2 separate regions of the Homo sapiens genome follow, and region 1 is linked to region 2. Evidence: fine-mapped expression QTL. Tissue or cell type: uterus. Region 2 holds a variant in brackets; the other region holds the start of a gene. All regions are shown on one strand. Distances are between the middles of the regions.

What was found. PIP is the estimated chance that this variant, and not a neighbour inherited with it, causes the effect.
Region 1: it holds the start of NCK1-DT, and the variant in region 2 is fine-mapped to the expression of NCK1-DT in uterus (GTEx, PIP 0.99).

Annotation. Positions count from the first base shown.
Region 1 is chr3:136,860,519-136,863,202 of GRCh38, reverse strand. It overlaps NCK1-DT (NCK1 divergent transcript), which reads left to right and starts at 1,140. Exons shown (of 3, transcript NR_110177.1): 1 at 1,140-1,456. NCK1 (NCK adaptor protein 1) reads right to left here and starts at 995. Exons shown (of 4, transcript NM_001291999.2): 1 at 850-995. RefSeq lists enhancers at 127-246, 257-336, 1,397-1,456, 2,017-2,066 and a silencer at 977-1,036.
Region 2 is chr3:137,470,609-137,473,292 of GRCh38, reverse strand. No RefSeq gene overlaps it. Among named protein-coding and RNA genes, the nearest start is that of SOX14, 290 kb to the left of the region's middle. RefSeq lists an enhancer at 2,249-2,308. The variant CTTAGTGCTGTCAT/T (reference allele first, on the strand shown) is at 1,204.

The DNA.
Region 1 (2,684 bases), 610 kb after region 2:
CCTAATTCTTTCCTAATTTCTAGGGCTTCTTACCTAATCTAACGTGCATAATTATTTTCAGGTGACTCCGGGTCCATCAGTTTGACACCGAGAGCGTTCCTACGGTTACGTCCTCACCCCTGAACAAAACCCAGCTTCCTGAGCTTCTAACGGCGAATTTAACTTGTATGTTAATACAGAAGAAAGGTTACAAAACCTATCGAAATGGTTTTTTGTTTTACCAAACATATTACAACTCAAGTCAAAAGTTCACAGCCCCAGCAACTCGCGTACGAATCTGAAGCAGGTCCAGACCATTAAAGTCACAGCCCCAGACTAGAAAACGGCCGGTGGGTGGGGGGAGGGGAGAGGGCGCGTCCCGAAGATGTCCACCCGCAGCACCGCGCAGGCTGACGCCTCCCCTCCTCTCGGGCTGGAGGTGAGAGCGCCCTTCCTCCTACCACGTCCCTACCTTCCCGGCCTCGGATTACGCCACAGCTGGCAAAAGGACTTTTTCATGAGAAAACAGACAAGTCAACCAGCGCGCCGCACACTCGACCTCCCAGGCTCGCACGGGCGGCCGCCCGGGCTCTCAGCCCGACACAGCGCTCCAGGGGCTGACAAGGAGGCCGCGGGGTCACGCTCCCTGGGGCAACGGCCCGAGGGTCTCGCGGAATCCCGGTGCAGAAGTCTGGACCCTCCGAGCAGCCTCCGCGCCCCCTCCGGCTCGGCTCCGAGCCTGCAGACGGCGCCCCCGGGGCTAACTCAGCGCGAGAAGAGGAAGCGACGCAGCGAGTAACAGGCTGTATGGACGGACAGCGGACTGAAGGGGGGTGTGTGTGTGTCTGCCTGCCAACAAGGCCGTCTCACCTTCCCGCTGCCGAGCCGGGCAGCTCCAGCTCACCTGAGGAGGGCTCCAGGACGCCACTGCGGCCGCCGTGATGGCCGTAACGGCACGAGGCCTGCGCTCCGCCGCCGCCGCGTAGCTCTTGGGAGAGAGGCGGGGCACGCGCGGTGGGCAGGCGGATCCGCGCGGGCAGGAAACCCACTCTGGACCCAATCTGATAGGTTCAGTCGCCCCCTTCCCCGGTCCCTGACGCGACAACGGTCTCTGCCGCACTGGGATTGGGCGGGCCCTCATGTCAATCAAGCGCCGTGCCTGATGTGGAGGGAGCGGAGGCTGCGCGGCGGAGAGTAGAGAGCTAGAGGGTGAGAAGCGCTGGGCCGGACCAGAACTGTCTTAGCTTTTCCCTCTGCGGCTGCTCTGGTTGGTTACTTTGAGCCTGCCTCCTCAGCGCCGCAGGAGAGACTTAACAGCAAAAATGACTGTGTCCTGAGTTCAGCCCCCACTGCTCTGGGAGCTTCCCCCTGGTTTCTGCACCTGAAGAATGTCATCCCAGCCGAAGGTTCTTAGGAGCGGGGAGCGACAAAGAAAAACAAAGAAAAGCAGACCTGAAAATTGGGACCTGGGAGAAATGTAAGACATGTGCTTAATTTGAGGCACAGACCAAAAGAAGCTGAGTCTGAGGGCCCTCTAAAAGTGTCCTCGTGCTTGGGCAGCTTACATTCTTGGCGGCAGTAGTGTTATGAAGAGGACCTTCGGAGCCAGGTCTGTCCATTCTTAGGGCTCCAGCCACTGGCTGAGGCATCAGTAAGTTGGTTCTTCCCCTCGCCGGTGCTGCAGGCCCCCTTCCCCGCCCCCGCGCCGTAACCTGCCTCTTTTTTTTTTTTTTTTGAAACGAGTTTCGCTCTGTCGCCAGGGTGGAGTGCAGTGGCACGATCTCGGCTCACTGCAACCTCCGCCTCCGGGTTCAAGCTATTCTCCTGCCTCAGCCTCCCGAGTAGCTGGGATTACAGGCATGTACCACCACGCCCAGCTAATGTTTTTGTATTTTTAGCAGTGACGGGGTTTCACCAGGATGGTCTCGATCTCTTGACCTCGTGATTCGCCAGCCTCGGCCTCCCAAAGTGCTGGGATTACAGGCGTGAGCCACCACGCCCAGCCGCCTCATCTCTTCTTAACCATCTTTGTGGCACAGTTTAGGATCGCTCCTCAGGGAAGCTTGCTCAGTTAGGTACCTTCCTTGGAGCACAGGTGTTTTCTCCATCCGAGCTATTGAAATGGTTTGCCTGTATGTCTACCTAGATTGTAAACTCCGTTGAATCAGTAACCATGTCTGTTCAGTTTCTCCCTAGGGCCTTGCAGTAGGGTAGATGGTCAGTAAATACTGTTTAAGGCATTAATACTTTTTATTTTAATCCTGGCCCTGGATATCAGCCTCAAAAGTTTGCAGTTTTCTGCATTTAACTTCAAAATTATTTACGTGATTGGTAATGCATGCATGTGGTTGGCCTGTGCTGTAATTTAGATGTTTGTTCCCCTAAACCTCCTGTTGAAATTTGATCCCCAATGTTGGAGGTGGGGACTAATGGGCAGTGTTGGGTCATGGAGGTGGTTCCTTCAGGAATAGATTAATGTCCTCCCTGGGGAGAGGGTAAATGAGTTCTCTTTATTTCCACCAGAGCTGGTTAAAAAGAACGTCGCACTTCCTTTCTTCTTTTGCGTCCTCTCTGGCCATGTAATCTCTGCACACACCAGCTCTCCTTTGCCTTCTGGCATGAGTAGAAGCAGTCTTAGGCTACCATCAGATGCAGATGCTCAGTCTTGAACTTTTCCAGACATCAGAACCATAAGCCGAAAAACC
Region 2 (2,684 bases):
CATAAATAACTGGAAAATCTGGAAGCATATGGTCTTTTTTCTATTCTTGAGAAAGTGGAGTAAAGCAGGTCAATCAATTATAACAAGGGTCAATAAACTTTTTCTTTTAAGGACTGGATAGTAAATATTTTGAGCTTGCTGGTCACATGGTTTCTATCACAACTACTCAACTGTGCTGCTCTGGTATGAAAGCAGCCAGAGAAAATATGCAAACAAGTGAGTGTTCAAAACATTTTATTTATAGACTCTGAAACATGAATTTCATAAAATTTTCATGTCACAAAATATTTTTCATTTGATTTTGTCCAAACAATTTAAACATCTAAAAACCACCCATAGCTCAAAAAACATACAAAAATAAGGAATTGACCAGCTTTGGCCTGTAGGTCATAGTTTGCCCAACCCCTGAGTTCCCCCTAGGAGGTCTCAAAGGGCAAGGGGCTGGAACTAGGGACTGGCCATGTAAGACTCTATTTTTGACCACATTTCCACGTGGCTAGCTTAAGCTTCTTAGCAGTGCAGTGGCATTGGGGGCAGTTGAGCTTCTTTCATGTTGGCTCAGGGCTCCAGGAGGAAGGAAGCAAAAACTGACAGTCCTTTTAAAAGTTGGGCCTAGGACTGAAAGTGCATCACTTCCACCCTGTTCTATGGGCTGAAGCAGACACAGGCAAGCCCAGATTCAAGAGGCCTGCACAAGGGTCTCCTCTTGATTGGAGCAGTGTCAAAGAACTTGCTGCGAATTTTATTTTAATTTAATAAGTTGTTAGACAATACATTCTTTTTAATTTTAATTTTAATTTTTACTTTATTTATTTATTTATTTGAGATGGGAGTCTTGCTCTTGTCACCTAGGCTGGAGTGCAATGGTGCAATCTCAGCTCACTGCAACCTCTGCCTCCAGGTTCAAGTGATTCTCCTGCCTCAGCCTCCCGAGTAGCTGGGATTAAAGGTGCCCACCATCACCTTTGGCTAATTGTTTTTGTATATTTTTAGTAGAGACAGGGTTTCACCATGGTGGCCAGGCTGGTTTCCAACTCCTGACCTCAGGTGATCTGCCCGCTTCAGCCTCCCAAAGTGTTGGGATTACAGGCGTGAGCCACTGCACCCAGCCAATAATATATTATTCTCTCATTCAAGAAATCTAAAGGTAGATAAGTCCTGAATTGGTTAATTCAGAAGCATAAGGATTCAGGCTCTAAGTCA[CTTAGTGCTGTCAT/T]CACTACTGGGGTCATGAGGTCAAGGGCCAAGAAGTTTGCAGTAGCTGCAAGCATCACTGCCTTACCAGAGGCTCTGAAACTTCAATGTGTATCAGAATAACCTAGAAGACTTGTTAAAACGCAGTAGTTGGTTCCACCTGCAGAGCTCATGACTGAGTAGGTCTGGTGGGGGGTGAGGGTTAACTGAGGATTTAGTTTTTTCCAGTTATCGCGGCTAAGATTTATCACAGGAAGAGGATGTAAAGCAAAAAAGGAAAAGGCACATGGAGCAAAGCCTAGAGAAAACCAGGCATAAGCTTCCAAGAGTTCTTTCCCAGTGGCGTCACACAGGATGCATTTAATTTCTCCAGCAATCAGCTGTGACAACACATGTAAAATGTTATCTACTAGGGAAGCTCATTAGAGACTCAGTGACCAAGATTTTCACTAGGGGCTAGTCACATAGGCATCCTCTGCCTAGCATATACCAAAATGTCAGACTCCCAGAAGGAAAGTAGGTGTTCAGCATAAATGGCATTGTTTGTACATTTTAGGCACAGTGGGTCGCTCTGATTAGAGGGTGAAATCTAGATACCAAACAGTGCTAACTTCTCAAGTAGGGCCTTCTAAGGAAATTAGTCTCAGGCCTGCTATGTTAACTTTTGAGAATTTGCATTTTTAGCAAGTACCCAAGTGGTTCTCAAAGTGGGGACCACGCTTTGAGAAGGATTGGTTTAACATAAACTGCCAAGCAGGAAGCAGGCAAGTGTGGGACAGGGGATTTTTCACTGTGGGCTTTCACTTTTTATAGGGGAGGGAAATCCTTCTTGAAATCCCCTAGTTTTCTCTTTATGTTTCTCTTTATGTTTCTTTGTCTAGAACACGTTCACATGCCCGCCTGAAAGCTGACGATTGGCTTAAACAATAACAATTCATCTCCTGAAGCTGGACTAATGCCAGTCCAACCAAAGTTAGGTTTATGTCACAGCATCCATAGATAGGGCTTCTATTTCCAGAGCTTGGCCAAGTAAGTCCTCTCTCTTCCACCGCACAACCTGTGAGGTAAACAAAAGCAGGGATCTTTCTGTTGAGAGCCCTTTCCAGTGTCAGTTGGTGATCTTTTGAGATGTGGCAAAAGCATTCTTCCCCTAATTCATTGCTCCATGGAGTCAGCCAACCTTGCTCTACTACTTAGGGTGGAAGGTGAGATCATATATGAACCGTATGAGCAATTTGATCAGCCTTTGCTTAATACTTTGTCTAATAGGATCTGATTTAATGATAGAGCTCTTTAGGCTTTATCATTCTCCAAAAAGCTTTCTGTGAACACATAGGTGCGTTTAAGTATTTGATCTCTCCAAATACTAAAACTGGGATGAGTCCAGTTCAAGAACCTTAGATTCCAAATTAAGAGAGTAATCAAAAATAATTAATCAAGAATTATCTCATCTTGTTATTTATCTTTCTTCAACAGGTTTCAAGTGCTTC